Regions from separate parts of the Homo sapiens genome. Here region 1 is linked to region 2. Evidence: fine-mapped expression QTL. Tissue or cell type: whole blood. Region 2 holds a variant in brackets; the other region holds the start of a gene. All regions are shown on one strand. Distances are from middle to middle.

Region 1 (8,271 bases), 43 kb after region 2:
TCTGGACTGCCTGGAGCCTCCTTCATTGTGCTGTGTCCCGGGGGCCACAGCAGCAAGTCCAGCCTTTTCTGCCAGACGTGGAGACCATCCACACTCTAGAGCCACCCTATCCACTGGGTTAGCATCCTCTCTCCTCTGTTACTGCATGCAAGTTGTTTTGCTTGCATGAAATTCCTTCCTTTCCCACTCTCTTCCCTCCTTTTCCATATTGCATCATACCTTGAGGCTCATTGTCACCTCCTCCGTGAAGTCGTCCTAGTCCAATCCTCACTCATCCCTTCAAGTCTGAGTCCCAGAGTCTCTGGACTCTGCAATTTACTACTTAGGTATTACTCTGATTTCCTAACACATACCCTTTTGAGGGCAGGCGGGATCTAACCCTTTTGAATTCTTCCATGGGACCATGAAACTTACAGCATCTATATATTCTGTACCTGCTTACATCAGAGACTGTGCTCAAAGCTTTACCTCATGGAATGGGTATTATCCCCCTTTTACAGACGAGGAAACAGCTCAAAAAGGTGAAGTGACGTGTCCAAAGTTAACACAGTTCACAGATAATAGACAGCACTGGCATTGGAACTTACTGATCAAATGCGCCAACTCTTTCTGCTCCTGCCCTGCCTCTAATTGATTTAGTACCAAGCGTTCAAGGGTGTTAAAACCTCAGGGGCCATTGTCATGAGCAGCCTGATGGAAGCCAACCTTGAACACTTCTTAGCCCTTTCAGCAGCCCTCTGAGTGTGTTTCGATTCTGAAGAGCCCCACCCAAAAGCCACAGAGGAAGTTGGGGCACAAATTTGAGCCTCTCTGGGCTCAGGCAACCTTGCCTTGAAGGAGCTGCGTCTCATGTCTGCTTGGGTTGCACACGCCTGCCTCCACCCAACGGCCCTCGGCATGCCCACTCTGTCAAGCAGAAGTATGCCTATATGAGACTTGGATCTAGCCCCTGTTCATTCTAGCTCAGATTGTGGGAGCTCTTCCGGAAGCACCATCTGCCGCAGAGGACATTCCCTTCATGCCTCTGCCTTGTTTCTCTCTGCTCCTGTCAGTTTTGGGGATGGCAGAGAGAATCAGAATGCTCTTCTGCTGAGGCAAAGGAAGCCAGCTTGGCCCAAGGCCTGCCAGAGAGCTCTTATCCAGCTGATGGAATAGATTGGGCTTGGTGCTGGGAGCCTGTTTATTATAAAGAATCACACTGATAATCCTGAGTGTGCCAGGCACTTACTCCAGCAGGGTTTTTCCATTATACTTCAGAAACTTTCTAATGCCTTTAGCAGCCTCTCTAGAAAAGTCAGAGTTCAGAGTGGTGCTAAACACCTAAGCATCTAAGCGATGCTTCAGAAAACTGAAACTTGTGCACGGCATGTAGGGCATCGAATTAAATATGGGTCTTACCAGTCAGTGAAAAGGGGCTGAGGGTTTGGGCTTTGCTGCATTATTCTGATAACCTAGGTTTGAATCCTGGCTCTGCCACTTATTATGTAGGTCGTAGGACCCTGGGAAGTCACTTAACCTTTTGAAGTCTCAGTTTTTTCACCTGCAAAATGGGAACGATGAAAACACCCACCACAGAGGATTGTTCTGAGTGTTAAATGAGATAATGATGTAAACATGCCCTGGCAAGCACTCCATAAATGTGATCTATTATTATTACTGTTGAAGAAGTTGATGATAACAGTCACTGAACTTGGAGACAGGACATATGGGTTTGAGGCTGAGTTCGGCCAGCTGAAGATAAGCAAGTGAGAAACCTCTCAGAGGTTTGATTTTCTTGGGGGAAACATAGGGGCTCACAACATCTGCCCTTGCTCCTAACAGACTGGTTGCTGGAAGGATCTGATGTGCCACCCGGATCACACCTGCTTTCTCCTCACTGTACCCCTGCATGGCCCTTGGACCCCACTGGACTTACTGCTTTAATCCCCGCTCCAGGCACTGGAGCCACTCTTGCCAGTGTTGTGAAATCCTCTCTCCGAGGAAGAGCAGCTCCTCCTGCTGCAAGGCTAACCTGCTCCCCTCCCCTGCCCACAACCCGTATTCTCACTTCCTCAGGGATCCTGTTTCACTGCCCCCTCCCTGCCTTTATCTTTAATCCCTTCTTCCTGGTGATTCAACATATGACACATTCAAGTTGTTCTCATATGAAAAAAACACAGGCTCTCAAAGTCCAGGTCCTACTCTACCTATCAGTTCTCCTCTCTTCCCGGGGGTCCTTCTTAAATAAGTTGATCATGTTCTTAATTTCCAGTTCCTTTACTCTGGAGTCTACAACAATCTGGCTTCTACTCTCACCTTTCCATTGAAATTGCTCTGCTAAACTCACCAATGACTTGCTAGTGTTCAAATCCAGCGGAAACAACTGTGCTCCCCTTGCCTGACCTCAGCAGCATTTGAGAAGGTAGGAAGGAGGCAGAGAGCGCAGCCATAAGGGGTAGGCTCAACATGCACAGACTACACACAGTCCTGGATCTATGCCCTATATCCACTTGACTCTGAGCAAGTATTTAACCTTCCCAAGCCTCAATTTCTTCAACTGGCAAATGGGGATCGTAAAAGTCACACTCTTCCTTAGTTGTGCAGTGCACAGCCCGCCTGCCCTAAGCAGTGGCGCTAGATCATCTCTAGACCTCTACATCCTCATCTGGAAGTCCCACAGGCATTTCCAACTGTTGGGGGACCTGTCTCTGTCCCCTCACTAGCCTCAGAAGTAAGTCTTCAGAAGCAGAAACCATATGCATTGTGCCCAGCATATAGTAGGTATTCGAGAAATGCTTACTGAATGAATGAAAGAATAAGTGAATGAGTATGTGAACTCACTATGTAAACTGTAAAGTGCCATGCAAATGTAAAGTGAACACATTCTCTTGGTTTGTGTTTCACTTTTTTTTTTTTTTTTTTTACTTTTTTATAGAGACAAGTCTTACTGTGTTGCCCAGGCTGGTCTTGAACTCCTGGCTCAAGCGATCCTCCCACCTTGGCCTCCCATAGTGCTGGGATTACAGGTGTGAGGCACTGAGTCAGGTCAGCGTATCACTTTCACAACCATAATTTCATTTGAGGCACATTACAATCCTGCATCCATATTCTACAAACAGTCACTTCTTTTGTGTTCACTGGTGTATCTCCTGAGCTCTCAGGACAGTGCCTGGCATGTAACAGGTGCTCAATCAGTGTTGTCAAATGAGTGAGTAAATGAATGAATGAATGAATGAATGAATACTGTGAAAGGCATGGTTATGTGTCAGGCACTGGGGATATACTGGTAAATAATATACACATGATTCCTGCAGTTCAGTAGGAAGAACAAATACATGTGATTATATTCTAAACTGTGACAATGCTATGAAGGAAATGAGTGGGGTGACAGAGAAAAACAAGGTGGGGAGGTGGCTGCTAAGAAGGGTCAGAAAAGACCTCTTTAGGAAGGGAACATGTGACTAAGTTGGGAAGAATGAGAGTGAGCCACACTCCAGGTAACAGCGTGCCTTGCTGGTGAGAAGGCCTCATGCAGGAAAGAACCGGCTCTTTGAGAGACTGAAAGGAGGCCATGACGGCAGGGCCTAGTGGGCCACAAAAGAGAGAAAATATTTAGGCAGCATGTTTTCTTTTAGATGAAGACATGGAGGCACAGAGAGGTTAAATGGCTCGTTCAAGGTCACCAGCAGGTTAGCAAGAAGAAGAACCCAAGTGCTCTGAGTCTGGGCTAGGGCGCTTCCTGCAGCCCTTGCTACCTATGGGCTGGATTTAGGGTAACAGAAGGTGACCTGGGAGGCTGCTGGGTGTGGAAGCAGAGCTGGAAGCCTTGTTCTCACAACAGGAATCTAGAAGTTGGACTTCAGGGCAGGCTTTCCTAGGCGTGGTAGGGGAAGCCTGGGGAAGTGTCCCAAAGGAGGAGGAGCCTCAGGGGTTCCCCAAGAAACAGAATGGACAAGTAGATTGGGGAGCACAAGTTGTCCCAGGGCCGGGAGGTCAGAGACCCTGGGGGACGGGATAAGGGGGTCTGGAGGGCTCCCGGAGGTTTCCCGGGTGATTCCCGCCAGGGAAACCATGAGACACCTCCGTGTCCTGGGTTAATTACCAGTGTCAATGTTATGAGGAGGTATCGCTGGCTCCCCTTTGGAAAAATAAATCTAACCCCAGGGCTGCAGGAGACTATCCTTAGTCACAAAATGACCAGGCTATGGCCTGTCCCCCTCCATGAACAGACAGAACCCCAGTTGGAGACGGACTTTGTCTGGTAGATGCTGCCTCTCACCGTCCCTTCCCTGCAGACCCGATTCCCCTTCCCTTCCAGCTCCCCGCTAGAGTCCAATCAAAGTTTCACCCCGGCCTCCTGCATCACCCTGAGTTTTTGTGAAGTCCTAAAGTGGCCTGCTAGTGGGATCTGAGGGCAGTGATTCGCCTCGACCCGCCCAGGAAAGCGTGGTGGGTGGAAGAGAGGGAAGGCCCCGGGAGTCCCCCCACGCTCGAACAGAGTCCCGGGCTCTGGCGGCGCGGAGGTGTCGCAGGACTGCGAGGTCCTGGCTTGCGGCTTCCCCACTGCAGCACCCGGGCTGCCCCCCGCCCCAGCGCGCCGCGGGCCGGCCTGCACCCCGCCCTGCCCGGCACCCCGCCCTGCCCGCGTCCTGCCGCGCGCTTCCTACCGTGGGGCGCTTCCACTCGATGCCCCGGGTTTTGCTGGAGTAGGGCCCCAACTCCTTGAAGCCCAGGGCCGAGGGGATGGCCGGGAAGGACGGGTCCTGGAAGAGCGTCCCGGCCTCCAGGCACTCGTTCCGCAGCGCCTCGTAGTCCTGGTTGAGGTACTTGATGGCCCTGTCGTGGGAGCCCAGCCCCTCGGCCGCCTCCCGGTCCTTCGCCAGCTTGGCCGCGATGCCCGCCATGCTGCGGTCCCGGCGGCCGTACTGCGCAGAGAAAGGTCGGGGCGACTCCGCGCTGCGCTCGGCTGGGGCGCGGCCAGGGCCCGGCGCGCTGCTGCGGCCACTGCGGGCGCCGCCGCTGCGAGCGATGATTCACCGGAGGGAAGCGGCCCGGCCCGCGGGGTGTGGCCTCAGCCGCTCCCGGCCTGCTGGGCTCCCGGCCCGGGACCAGGCCATCCTGCGGCCTGCCGAGCGCCGGGAACGCCGCGACCCGGGGCCGGTGCTGCCATCTGCGGACAGCTCCCGGGATGGCGCGGCCCGGCGCCGGGGAGGCTCGCGAATCGCGGTCCAGAGTTGGGGCTCCCACCGGAACCCGAGGCCACCTTTGCAGCCCATAGGGAAGAAGGCTAGGATAGTTGTGGCCGTCCGGAAAACACCCGGGGAGTTAGCAGAGGGTCAGGTAGTGAAGTCGAGGAAACTAAACCAGCTGCCCTGAACTTTGTGCCAAACAGCGTCTTAACGGCTCTGCATACATCATCTCATTTAATCCTCCCAGCGACTCTGAAGAAGGCGCTGATATTGTCCCCATTTTACAGATGAGAAAACTGAGCCTCGGAGACGCTAAATGACGTCCCCAATGTGGCACAACAGTCACAGGCAGAACAGGGACTCTAAGCCACCGGAGGCCTATTGCAATCACAATGCTGCAATTACTACTGCTCAGCTGTTTATTTGATTATAGATAGGGTTGTCAGATTTGGCCAATAAGGCTGGGTGCGGTAGTTCACACCTGTAATCCCAACACTTTGGGAGGCCGGAGGCAGGCGGATCACCTGGGGTCAGGAGTTCGAGACCAGCCTGGTCAACATGGTGAAATTCCGTCTCTACTAAAAATACGTCGTGGCAGGCACCTGTGATCTCAGTTACTCGGGAGGCTGAGACAGGAGAAACGCTTGAACCCAGGAGGGAGAAGTTGCAGTGAGACGAGATCGCGCCACTGCGCTCCAGCCTGGGTGACAAAGCGAAACTCCATATCAAAAATAAAATAAAATAAAATGATTTGGCCAATAAAACAACAACCCTCCCAAATGTTTAATTTGAATTTCAGATAAACAACAGATACTTTTAAAGTATATGTAGGGCCCAAATATTGCATGGGCATACATACTTATTCTAAAAGAAAATATGATTCATTGTTTACCTGAAACTCATATTTAACTGGCAGGATTAGTTGGGTTACTATAGGGAGAGAGCATTTAGAATACTGCCTGTGTTGGCTACTGTGACCACTCTGTTGTGGAGCTAGGGTGTGATTCTCATCTCACACACAGAGACATGGGTGCGTGCCAAGAAATGCAGATGGGCAGAAATTACCTCCTCTTCTTCTCTACAGTAGTAGGGAAGAATTTGGGTTTCACTGGAAAACTGTGCATGGTCTACAGCAGTGGTTCTCAACTGGGGGCAGTTTTGTCCCCTACCCACCCCAGGAGACATTTGGGAATGTCTGGAGATAGTTTTTATGGTCACAGCTAGGAGATGAGGTGCTACTGGCCTTTACTAAGTAGAAGCCAGGGATGCCGCTGAACATCTTCCAATGTCCAAGATAGCTCTTGTGAACCCAGAAAATCTGAAACAGGTCTCATTTAATTTAGAAAGTTTCTTTTGCCATGGTTGAAGATGCACACCTGTGACACAGGAAGTCCTGAGGACATGTGCCCGAGGTGGTTGGGGTGCAGCTTGGTTTTATACATGTTAGGGAGGCAAGAGCCATCAGTCAAGTACATTTAAGAAATACATTGGTTTGGTTCAGAAAGGCGGGACAACTCAAAGTGGCGGGGGGTGGTGGGTGGGTAGTGGGGGTGGCTTCCAGGATATAGGTAAATATTTAAACATTTTCTGGTTGACAATTGGTTGAGTTTGTCTAAAGGCCCAGGATCAATAGAAAGGAATGTTTGGGTTGCGATAAGAGGTTGTGGAGACAAAAGTTTTATCACATAGATGAAGCTTTTAGCTAGCAGGCTTCAGAGTGAACAGGCAGTAAAATGTTTCTTATCAGACCTAAACTCTGGTTGATGTTCACGCTGGAGAGGTATAATGAAGCATGTCCGACCTTGCCTTTCCTTCATGGCCTGAAAATTTCAGGTTAAAATTTTAAGAGCCTCGGCTAAGGAGGAACCATCCATTTAGATGGTTGGCGGGGGTAGGGGAGGGGGAGGCTTAGAATTTTATTTTTGGTTTACATTCTCCACCCAAAACATGATCTAGTCCAAGACATCAGTCATGTAGAGGCTGAGAAACCCTGGTTTAGAGCATCTCCTTCCAGAAGATCTGGGTCTAGCCTTTCATTGTTTTTGTTGTTGTTGTTGTTGTTTTTGTTTTTCTTGAGATGTAGCACCCTGTCACCCAGGCTGGAGTGCAGTGACAGGATCTTGACGATCTCAGCTAACTGCATCTTCTGCCTCCCGGGTTCCAGCGATTCTCCTGCCTCAGCCTCCAACGTAGCTGGGATTACAGGTGCACACCACCACATCTGGCTAATTTTCTATATTTTTTGTAGAGATGGGGTTTCACCGTGTTGGCCAGGCTGGTCTCGAATTCCTGACCTCAGGTGATCCGCCTGCCTCAGCTTCCCAAAGTGTTGGGATTACAGGTGTGAGCCACCACACGAGCCCCTTTCATTGTTTTTGAGTTATTTTATAACTCTAAGTTGTATATAACTGTAGCAATGTATAGTTACCTAAGTAACTCTAAGTAAGTAATCTAAGTTGTAGATAACTGTAGCAATGGAAAATAATTTTTCCTATAGATATGCAAATGCATTCTGTCCAGTAGAGGCACTACAGTCCCCCTGTAGAGAGACCAGTTTTTTGTCTAGTTGCATATTCCATTTCAGTACTCTTCACGTCATGTAAATTGTGCTGCTTTGGTTTCTCCTTTGAACCAGTTATAACATCCACCAGATTGCCTCGTTTAATCAAGTTAAATGGACTCTTTTTTTTTTTTGAGATGGAGTTTCACTCTTGTTGGCCCAGGCTGGAGTGCAATGGCACAATTTCGGCTCACCACAACCTCCACCTCCCAGGTTCAAGTGATTCTCCTATCTCAGCCTCCCGAGTAGTTGGGATTACAGGTGCCTGCCACCATGCCTGGCTAATTTTGTATTTTTAGTAGGGACAGGGTTTCTCCACGTTGGCTAGGCTGGTCTCGAACTCCTGACCTCAGGTGATCTGCCCACCTCTGCCTCCCAAAGTGCTGGGATTACAGGTGTGAGCCACTGCACCCTGCCGAAATGGAATCTTTAAAATGTGTTTATTTTATACTAATATGAGAGCCATGATGTTACCTTTTCTTAAAGCAAGTATTTTTGTCACTATTATTCCTCTGCCCCCATCTATTCTTGTCTCTGACACCC
Region 2 (11,286 bases):
GGTTTTTTTTTTCTAATTAAAACACAAGAAGGAATGTAAATTATGTGGGAAGGAGTAATATTCTAATTTCTCACAGAGGTATCTTCTCTAGCATCCAATTAAAATGGCCTTTTAGGATCTATTCTAGTGGGGACTCAGAAGAATAAAGACTAGCTGGAATGTTGTGGATGGATTTTGACAGTGGCTAGCACAGCCCAATAGGCAAGGGACTGGCCCATGCCCCCAGCACAGAGGCCAGAGCTGATGCAGGTAGTCGACTCTTGGATTCCCAGTACCCGGCTTTATCCTTAGTTTCAGGCTTTGTTCGTGAAGTCCAAAAACTCTTGGAGTTTTTTTGCTCCTCTGCTCTCTGGATTGTCCAGGACAGAGTGGGTGAAATTCAAAGAGTTACAAATACCTCTTCAAGATTGGCCTCGATTTCATCATCGACAGCTCTGGAAATAGAAGGAAATTATGTGTTACTGGAAGGCAGGCGAGGGCAAAAAGGAAGGAAATCACTGCTAAAATGGAAGTGCAGTGCTAAATCCAGCAGGGGGTAGGTGGGGTGGGGCAGGGCTGCGGTGGGGGGAGGTCTTTGTATTCCAAGTTTCTGTGATAACACCTCCCCTAAAAAGCAAAAATTTTTCTGCATTCCAAGTTTCTGTGATAACATTTCTCTGCATTCCAAGTTTCTGTGATAACACATCCCCTAAACAGCAAAAATAAAGGCAGAAGTGATCTGAAGGAAGGGTCATGACCAAAGCAACGTGGGCAGCTGGAGATTTTTGTTTGCTAGTTTTTGATCTTTATCAAATAGGATAGCCTTCGCGTGTAGCGTGGTGTTCGTCCTAGCCTTAAGGAATAGCTTCTAAGTTCCACTTGAAATATCCTTTGCCAACATAGACTTTCACACTGAGAATCATGCAGTGCAAATCATCGCCTACTTGTTCTGCCTCAGGTTGGAGAGGTGGGCAGTGCAGAGGCCTGTGTGTCATTTCAGCCAAAGCTCAGGTCAGGCAGTGGTTAGTTTATACTGTGCACCGCCCCTGTGTCCAGGGCCAGGTCCTTCTGCTCCATAGTGAGGGTAATCAAGCTCAGGAGGTTCTTCCTTGGGCCACTGTGATTTTAACTAAGTGACCAAGAGTCCTATCAGCAGGGCCAATGCCTGGCAGAAGGAAAAGGGGACCTCTTGGTGCTGATCATTGGAATCTGGAGCAGAAGGATTAATATTTTGGGACAAGGAAGTCAGAAACCTTTGAGAGGTGGGGTGTCCTCTTGGGGTAGGGAGCTCACCCTAGAGAGAGTTGAGGGGTTGAGGCTTCCCTGGGAGAGTGACTTGTGGCTGGCAGGGAGAGTAATGAGTTTGACAAAGGACACTGTTATTCTAATGCCACCAGGTCATGCTCCTATTTTCTTGTCAGTGAGGACTAAACTGAACACACCAGTCTTCCTCTAAGCATCCTCAGAGCTGAGAGGAAAGGTCCCTTCCCCCATGGTAGGCTTTAGCAAATGAAGACAGCCTGTCAGTGGCAGGGGGGCTACAGCCGTGCTATGGTGGCATTCATTGGTATGCAGCTGCCTGGCATTGCTTTGTCTCCCTTCGCCATGGGAAATTATTTCTGCATCATGCATTATCTTGGGGCAAGGGCAGTTCCCTGCCTCTACCTCCCATTGGCTCTTCCTCTACAGGAACCAGCAGGCCAGGTGGCTGACCCAAGCCCAGCACCTCAGACACACTCCACAAGATCTTTAGACCTCAGCACATGACCCAGAGTCCAAGGGGTCATCTCACACCCTGGTCCTCCAACACATCCTTGGCTCCTGTTCTTCCTAGCCTGACCCCCTACCTCCCATCAGTTCTGGAGTCTCCAATGGCCTTTCGATGAATTCCCTTTAGCTTAAATCACCCAGGGTAGATTCTGCCTTTGCCAATCAAGTGCCCAGCTGAACATACATGGTTGAGGCAGAAGTCAAAGTGGCAGAAGCCATTGTGAATTGAGGCCACCTGGACAGTGGCAGGAAATGGTGATGTCAGCCACAAAGGGTTCCCAAACGTGGGATCCCATGAGGAAGGGGAGAGAGAGCTGGTGACATGACAACTATAATAGGGAGAGGTTCTGGAGGTGGGAACCGTTGAGATGGTTCCCACCTTACACCCTTGGTGGCTCTGCTAGGCCAGGTGGCCTGGAAAATCAAGGATTACACCAGCACTGCTCAGCTTTCTTCAAATGACGAGACTGGATTCGTAGTTTAACATTAAAGTACCAACTTGAGAATTCAGAGACACGCTTATGAAATTAGACCCTGCAATTCACTGTACAGCCACCCCTTTCCAACCAAAAATATCCACAGTGGCTTTTTCCATTGTTTACCTTACTATAACACTAGAACTTCCTCAATCCATCAAATCCCCACACTAGTCCTTCGAGGTGGGCAGGTGTTACAGAAAAAGTAACTGACATTCAGAGGATGAAAGAGCCCTCTAGGGGCCGAGGAACAGACCAGTGGGGAGGGACAGGGAAGGGTGGGGAGAGGAAGGGACCAAACCGCCTACTGGTAGTCAGCTTTCTTTTCAGAAAAGACCCGGATGCAGAAATCCCCATCCTTGTTGGGTTCGAAGGTGGAAGGCACGAGAATGTACTCTCCTGGCGGCAGCTTGAAGCGGTTGAGCACCTCCCGGAGGTTGATGAAGGTGTCTGAGCGCTCCCTGGCGCGATTCGTCAGGAAGAAGTTTTTGCTGAGGTGGATGTTGGTCTGCCCACTTAACTGAGGAATAAATAGAGAAACATGGGGGTAGATGAGGGGAAGCCTCCAGGCAAGTATCATTTTCATTCACTGAGATAAAAGCAGTTGGGTAGTGTGGTGGCTCAGTCCTGCTGTCCTGGTGTATAAGGAGGCGAGGCCAGGCGTCAGAAACCAGCCTGGGCAACACAGGAAGCCCTCATCTATATAACGACGACAACAACAACAAAACAACAAAATTTTTTTAAAAAAATAGCAGTACAGTGACAATGCCTGGGTCATTTTAGATAAAAAGCAAACTTTTGTTAGGTGTGGTGGCTCACGCCTGTAATACCAGCACTTTGGGAGGCTGTGAGAGGATTGCTCGAGGCCAGGAGTTTGAGACCAGCCTGGGCAATGTAGTGAGACCCCTGTCTCTGCAAAAAATAAAAATATTAGCCAGGGGTGGCGGCAAGCGCCTGTAGTCTCAGCTACTCAGGAGGCTGAGGTAGGAGGCTCACGTGAGTCTGAGAGTTCAAGGACGGCAGTGAGCTATGATCACACCACTGTACTCTAGCCTGGGTGACAGAATGAGACCTTGTCTTAAAAAAAAAAAAAACAAAAAGCAAACTTTCTACCAAAAAACACAAATGCCTGCTGAGGAACTCGGAAGCACATGCCCACAGGGGTTTCACATCCATTCAGCTCCGCCTGCAGAGATGCCCAGTCTTTCCACAGTGTTCCCAGCCTTCCTCTAAGAGACTCTCAGGCAGGAACAGCGTCCACATGGCAGGAACCTGGCTCGGTTCTACGTGGTGTATGATGCACTATAAAAGCAAAGACAGGACTGGGGGCAGGAGAAAGACAACCCAGCTTCTAAACCAAGCATGATCCACCGGACCAAGGCTGGAGCAGCATCTAAAAGAGCCCGATGTGCTACCGGTTGCACTGCCTTGCTGTGAAAGAAATGTACTACAGGTGGGTCAAAGTGCCCCGTGTGTCTACTTTAATAATCGTGACCTTGGACCAGGCATCCCATCTGCTTCAGCAAGCGGTGACTGTGGGCCCAAATGCTCTCGCAAAATTTAAGTCATTCCACGGTAGTGCAGTGAGGTGGATGGTTGACCAGTTTTACTGAAAAATAAACTGAAATGCAGCCAGGCACGGTGGCTACACCTGTAATCCTAGCACTTTGGGAGGCTGAAGGGGGTGGATCACCTGAGGTCAGGAGTTCAAGACCAGCCTGGCCACCATGGTGAAACCCCGTCTCTACTAAAAATACAAAAATTGGCCTGGCATCCTGGTGCGTGCCTGTAGTCCCAGCTACTGGGGAGGCTGAAGCAGGAGAATCACTTGAACCCAGGAGGTAGAGGTTGCAGTGAGTCGAGATCATGCCACTGCACTTCATCCTGGGTGAAAGAGCGAGACAAAAAACAAACAAACAAACCAAAAATCAAAAAAAAAAAAAACAAAACCCTGAAATGCAGAGAGGAGCTGTAACGTGTCCAAGGTCACACAGCCTGGGAATTGGGTCCTGGTCTCCTCTGTGCTCCCGCGTTGTCTTCTAGTACAGTCTGCAGGGTTCACCTTTTCCCTGACTCAGTCTTCTCCTAAGAGTGACAAAGAACTTTGTGAAAAGCCTCCTGCAGTCTCAGGATCATGGATTTTCTGCCCAGAACCAAACCCTGTATGGGCTCTGCCAGGTCACAGGGAGGCAGCGGGTCCCACAAGGACTTTCCAGAAACCTTGCCCAGAGCTTAGACCAGTGGGATCTAGAGCCTGGGCAACTTCAGCAGGGCCCCAGGGGTGGCCAGGACTCATCCTTCATGACCACCAGCCCCTGCCCGGGCTTCACGACGCTCCCTGAGCTCCAGCAGTCTAAGCCTCTCGCTTTTTTGGTGACCTGAGCACCCCGGGACATGGGCCAGACGTACCTCCTCTGGAACCTGCAAAATAAAGGAGATGCAATTCAGATGCCGGAAAAGCAGTGTAAGAAAATGCATCACTGTGCTCTTCTCTTCCGCTGCCCCCGTTTTCTCTGTAGCATTAGCAATATCAACTAATTCAACCGAGTAACTGTTTTCCAAGGAACTCAAAGCCTCTCCAACACTGAAGAAAATCCTCTTATGTTGATAAGCCCTCACCTCCCTTCCTAACTTAGAGTATAAATCTCAGGCATGGAGATGTGAAGAGACTTGTCTAAGGTGGCAAAGCCCATATCGGCCTCCCACGCAGGGAAAGAGGGCCAGGCGGGCCCTGTTGGAGGAGGCAGCAGGC[G/A]AGGTGAAATACACCTGGGGCTAGGAGCCAGCAGTGCCGGCCTCTGTCAGCCAGGTCCAGTGGTCCGGTCTGCATTTCCTTGAGCAAGTCCCCTCTCCTCTCTGGCCTCAGTTTTCTTGTCTCAAAAATAGGACCCAGTGATCCCCAAGGTCCGTCCCAACTCTGAAAGCCCGTGGCTGCATTTCCAAGCCCATAAGCCGGTGGGAGGGAAGCTGTGTATCACAATTCCATTTGCATTGTCCTTGGATCGATTCTGTCCCAGATCCGAAGTCCTCAGCTCCTGTTTCAGAGACGGAGGGGTTTAGGCCTATGTGCATTTTTACAACTGATGGTATTTGCCCAGCTGCCTTTCTCAGGTGGGTGAGCAGGTAGAAGTCAGTGTTCCATGGGTGGCAACGTTGCCAGTGGTGAGCACAGAGCCTCCTCTCCTGACACCTCGTCTGGATTCTCCCAGGGGTGTGCTGGGAAACTGGCTCTTGGGAGAGGGTGGAAGCTCTGATTTGTACTATTTGCCACTTTCCATGGTGTAAACAGGTCCCTGCCAGGGCCATTTTTCAGGCTGCTGAAGGACCTCAGCAGACATGGGTCAGAGAAAAGAGATGGGCTTTGGGAGCCGGGAGGAGCCAGCTCCAGCCCATCAAACCGAAATGCATCCCCAGTCAGTGCCCTAAAGCCTTCCTTTCATCCCTCTCCTCGCATGGCTACCTGCAGCCCACGAAAGCTCTTTCTTGTTTTGCAGAAGGGAGTGGGGAGAGCCCAGGGGCCCAGCGTGTTGGGTGAGTTCTCAGTGCCCCAGCCCCAGCCTGAGGGCGGAGAGGAGACTGCAATGCGGCTGCCCTCTGGCTGTGGCTCAGAGTGAAAGGAAAACACGCATACAGCAGGAGTCTGTGTAGGGATCTGGGCTCCAGCCATCAGAGCCCTGGGGGGAGCATCATGACCAATGTTCCCCTGTCCCCAAGCTCTCCACCATCCAGGCCAATGACTTTGCCGAGCTCTGAGCAGCTGCACCCATGGACTCAGTCCTGCCCTCACAGTATTGCCTGATGTGGCCCAGTATATTCTGTTCTTTGAAGATGGGTAGGCTGACCAGAATGCCAGGCCTGGAGGATGTGAGAAGGGATGTGGAGGCCATTTGAGAGTGGAACTCCCTGCAGGCTGGCTGTGGGGGGCCCGTGAAGGGCTTAGAAGGCCCCACAACCCAGAGCCACTGCAGGGGCCTCCCTACGGGGGCTACTCCTGAGCCTGGCCAGGCTGGTAGTTTTGTTTTTCCTTGGCCAAGCTCCCGGTCTGGGATCCCATCCCCAGTTCTGCCTCTGGGGTCAGCTTTCCATGCAGGGGCTGAGATGAACACATGGGGAAGGGAGGGCAGGAGCCCCTGCGCTCTGCACCTCATAGATGCCAAAGCCGATGGTGTGCATGTCCTCGCCCATCTTCCTCTGCCGCCGTCGGTGCTTCTGAATGAGCCCCACCAGGAAGGTGCAGCCGCTCTCCCCATCCTCCTCGTCCTCATCCTCCTCCTCCAGCTTGATCAGGTACTGAGGGTTCATCCAGAATGTGTCTGCAGCCAGAAAGGGGCAGAGGAGCCCAGCCCTGAGCAGGAATGCATGGGGGTGGGGGGTGGCCCTGGTCTCAGGCTTGGAGGCTTCTGAGAGGGATGGAGATAAAGGGAGATGGTGGGAGGTGGTGGGAGATGGTAAGAGGTGGTGGGGGATGGTGGGAGATGGCAGAGTATGGCAGAAGATGGTGGGAGACAGCGGGAGATGTCAGAAAATGGCGGGAGATGGTGGGAGTTGGCAAGAGGCGGTGGGAGGCTGTGGGAGACAGTGGGAGATGGTGGGAGATGGCAGAGGATGGCAGAAGATGGTCAGAGACGGCAGGCGATGTTGGGAGAGGCTAGGAGGTGGGAGACACCAGGGTTGGAGTGTGGACTGCAGGCTTTGTTAGGCTGGAGACGGGTGACGGTAGCTGTGGAGAGAGGATGACCTGCACTTGTCTGAATCTAACAGGAACCTAAATTAGAAACTTTCTCTTGCAGTTCTCTCTCTGGCTCCAGGCTGGCTTGTCTTGGGGACTGGTCTGTCACTCTGGAACGCAGGGTGGTTAGAGCTGTGGCTTCCCCTCATGGTACCTTCTCTTCACTGGGCTCTGATGGGGAGCCTGGGGCGGGGCTCGGCTGGCCTGGGGGACTCCGGGATCTGCTCCCTGCACTTGCCGGTCGCCGCCCCCTCGGTGAGCCCGGAGGCCAAGAACATCCTGTGTATAATTCCAGACTCTTTCTTGTTCTGCGTCCCTTGTCCTCTCAGGCCTATTCCCTTGCCCTGCTCCTGATGTCTCTGCCCTCTTTACTTCCAAAACCTATTTATTTAAAAAATCTAAGATTCATTCATGTTTAAGGGGAATTATGCTAATTGCCTTTCCATACCTAATGGGATAAAACCCTAACTGTGAAATTACAGGCACCATCTTGTGTAGGGGTTGGCAGCTATGGCTCCGAAGGCCGCTGCCTGTTTTTGTAAATAACGTTTTATTGGAACGTAGCCACGGCCATTCGCTTAAGTATGGCTGCCTTTGGGTTATAGCAATAGAGTTGTTGTTATAGAGACTGAGTGGCCCACAAAGCCAAAATTATTTACTATCTGACCCTTTAGAGGGAGTTTTCCGACTCCTGATCTAGTGGGTAGGAGGGGTCCCTTGTGGGGGGCAGAGGGCCTTCCCAGCGCCTCTGGGACTGCCACTTGGTGGCTGCATACTTGAGGTGAAGGAGTCCGAGCCCCAGAACTGTAGGCCAGCTAGCCGCAGTCTGACTACTTGCTCTGTGGCCCTGGTATGCGACTTAGAGGCTCAGCTTCCTCATCTGTCACAGAGAATCACTATGTGACCATGATCTGCTGCCACTGTACTTACACAGTGACTCCTCAGTCAGGGGGCCTGGGTTCAAATCCCAGCACGCTCTGTGGCCTTCAGCAAGTCACTAGCCTCTCCAAGCCTCAGTTTCCTCATCTTAGAGATGGAGGTGATAAGAAAGTGCCTGCCTCAGAAGTTTGTTGGGAAGGTTAGATAGAATGTTATGCAGGCTGAATATCCCTTATCTGAAATTCCTGGGGCCAGAAGTGTTTCCTATTTTGGATTTTTTTGGATTTTGGAATATTTGTATATACATAACATATCTTAGGGATGGAACTCAAGTCTAATGACAAAACTCATTTCTGTTTCATATATAATTTATACACATAGGCTGAAGGTAATTCTATAGCATATTTAAAATAATTTTGTGCATGAAACAAAGTTTTGACTGTGTTTTGACTGCGACCTGTCACCTGAGGTCAAGTGTCGAATTTTCCACCTGTGGTATCATGTTGGGGCTGAAAAAGTTTTGGATTTTGGAGCATTTCAGATTTCACATTTTCAGATTATGGATCCTCACCCTGTGTACAAAACACTTAGGATAGTTCCAAGCACTGAAGGTGTGCCCCATAATTGGCAGATGTCATCATGTTCAGACAACTGCTGACGGACTAAGCCATGAAGGCAGAAGAATCAAGGGGCTCAACAAAGGCTGGACCAGAGGAGAAATCTTCACCCCATCTGGGCAGCGCCCAGTCAACATTTGCTGATTGAAGTGAGTATGGGGCAACAAACAGGGCCTGATATGTGGAGGGCTCCCTGGGTGCCGGGACAAGGTTCCCTTGTAGGCTCGGCTGCCTGGGTGTGGGGTGCATAGAGCAGCTCATGGCCGTGAAGTGGGATTGAGCACTGCTTCCGTGAGCATGGCGGAAGGTCAGGCTGAAGGTCATGATGGGCGCTGGGGAATCTAGGGCCTGGAGAGGACATCACAGAAACAGTGGCTCTTGGGTTTGTCCTGGGTAGGGCAGGAGGTAAGGGATTGAGAAAGAGAGCTCGGGGAGAAAAGGCTCAGGGAAAAGAAAAGGCTCAGGGAGAAAGAAGACAGAGAGGGTTCCAGTGAGCAGGAGCTGCCTCCTGGGGCTGCTAGGCTGGGGTGTGGTACACAGGGTGGGGTAAGGGGAGCTTTGGCCTTTGGTGGCCCCGCATTGCAACAGCCCTTATATGCAACAGCCCTTACTCGGGTAGTTCCTGCAACCTCCCGCGGTGGAGCCCCGCCTCCAGTTCCCATCCATTTTGGTGAGTTTCCACTTCTTGTAGGTATCGCTGGTGAGAGTGTCTGGGGTCAGGTTACAGATCTCCAGGCGGGAATAGTGCCTCAGGAAGTCACTGAAAGACATCCTGGCAAAAGCAGAGACAATCATCACAGGTGATAAGAAGACACACTGGTAAGCCTTGACTTTCCACCAACACCAGACCAGGAGCCACCCAAAGCCAGGCAGAGCAGCTCATTAGAACTGAGTGGATGGGCACCAGGTTCAGAATCAGAAGGCCCAGATTCCAGTCCTGGCGCTGCAACTTTCTAGCTGGGTGACTTTGAGCAGGTTACTTAAACTTCTCTGAAGCTCAGAACTCTCACCTGCAAAAATGGGAGCCGTGCCCATCAAATGTGACAATATATGGGCCCCATTTGATAAAGAGCATGTTGTGTCCAGGTGCAGGTGGTTATAGAGTGGCGCAGACACACAGACATGTGGGTCCATTGCTGCTCACTAAGGGACCAGTTTCTTAAGGGGCTGGGATGAGTCTCCGGAACCTGGGGGAGAAAGGCCCCATCTTTCCCTTGTTTCCTGGGATCTGAACATTACCAAAGGAATTCCTCTTAGCCTTTTTCTGAAGCTGCTCAGCTTATAAACCCCATTGTCAAGATGGACCGTTGAAGGGGCTTAAGAATTTCTTTATTCAGGCTCTTATAGTGAACTTAAAATAACAAAACCAGGATCCCACACGCTTGTGTCCTCGACATGGTAAACTCACTTTGGCCGACACTCTTTCTAATTAGCAGTTTTCTAGTAAAGAACATTGGGGCAGACAGAGCTTTCCCTGAAGCCTCCACTAATCTTACCAGAATTCTCCATCTTCATGCCGTCTGGTCAGCCTTTCCCTCTCCTCTGGGTCTATAGTGTTCCAGCTTGGGCAGCTGGAAAACAAAGTAAAGAGAGAGGCGTTAGTGTACGATGATTTCTCCCCAAAGGCCCCAGAGTTGAGGAAGAGGGACATCTGCTCTCACCTCTGAGGGCTCAGGCTCCAGAAAGGGGGAAAGTAGCCCACATCTGGCTAACAGCTGCATTTTAATACTCTTACAGCACTTTAAAGAGTATAGAACACTATACAGATGCAAACCAGGGAGCAAAGTGAGCGGGTGAGTTGTGCTGGAAGACAGTGGCAAGGAAGAGTCCAGAAAATGAACATAGTTCATTAGAGGGAGATGGAGTAGCTCAGAGCAGTTGCCCAATTGAGATGGGCCTGGCAGCTCTTTTAGAGACAACTGAAGATCTGATGAGGAGCCTCCGGCTGAGGCCTGGGAAGCCTCAGCAGGTGTCTCTCTGTCCACGGAGCAGAAGGACCTGGCCCTGTACACAGGGGCAGTGCACAGGGTAAACTAACCACTGCCTGAGCTTTGGCTGGAATTACACACAGGCCTCTGTACTGCCCACCTCTCCAACCTGAGGCAGAGCAAGTAGGCTGAGGTTGCCACAGCAGATGTACAAACAAGTGTTTACCCCAAATAGTTGAGGGTTCAACATGCCTACCAGTAAGCCCTGGAAATCAACAGAGGGATGTTTCTCTGGCCTTTGGTACAAAGTTCACATCCCTGTAATAGAAGTGCCTGGGGGAAGGTGGGGTGTATTTTTTTCCCTGAAAGCCCCATAGAAGGGTGGATTTGAGCTAGGGAAGGGGTGAACCTGGAGGCAGTGGCAGGAATGAACTTCACACGAGCAGCTTGGGGCCTGGAAGAAGGCACTCAGGCTGCTGGAGGAGTGTCCTGGTTAAAAGACCCTTTGAGGGGCCCCTGTCCACGGGTCCCTGTCCACGTGGCCTGGGCTCTCCTGGCTATATTTCTCAGAATAATGCACATGTCTTCTTCTCTCGCCCTCTTCCCAGAGCCTCCCAGCACAATGCACCCCCGCCTGGGGCCCCGAGGCCTGCGCCCTCCTCACTTGTCATTCCACCGCCCTGTCCACTCCACTTCTCCCCAGGGATTTCGGATGCGGATCAGTTTCTGTAGGCTTCCGTTACTTTCAACCTGCAGGATTAGATAAAAGGGAGGAGTAAGAGGTTGAGTTCAAGTCAGGGCTATGAAGGCTTGGGCCTCCAACCCCCTTCCGCATGAGCCAGGAGGTATGGGGCTGAGGACGGTGGGGAGGATTTGGGGGTTGAGTCCATGTATGAGGGAGGATCACAAGA

Evidence for each region. PIP is the estimated chance that this variant, and not a neighbour inherited with it, causes the effect.
Region 1: it holds the start of CAPN2, and the variant in region 2 is fine-mapped to the expression of CAPN2 in whole blood (TOPMed, PIP above 0.99).

The regions. Positions count from the first base shown.
Region 1 is chr1:223,709,253-223,717,523 of GRCh38, reverse strand. It overlaps CAPN2 (calpain 2), which reads right to left and starts at 4,985. Exons shown (of 21, transcript NM_001748.5): 1 at 4,647-4,985. The coding sequence starts at 4,883. RefSeq lists silencers at 4,519-4,638, 4,849-5,238 and enhancers at 4,348-5,299, 5,339-5,388.
Region 2 is chr1:223,750,729-223,762,014 of GRCh38, reverse strand. CAPN2 (calpain 2) reads right to left here. Exons shown (of 21, transcript NM_001748.5): 7 at 11,040-11,125; 8 at 9,944-10,018; 9 at 9,059-9,219; 10 at 6,366-6,535; 11 at 4,635-4,646; 12 at 2,534-2,745; 13 at 398-434. Among named protein-coding and RNA genes, the nearest start is that of CAPN2, 44 kb to the right of the region's middle. RefSeq lists an enhancer at 8,571-9,770 and a silencer at 10,474-10,768. The variant G/A (reference allele first, on the strand shown) is at 4,978.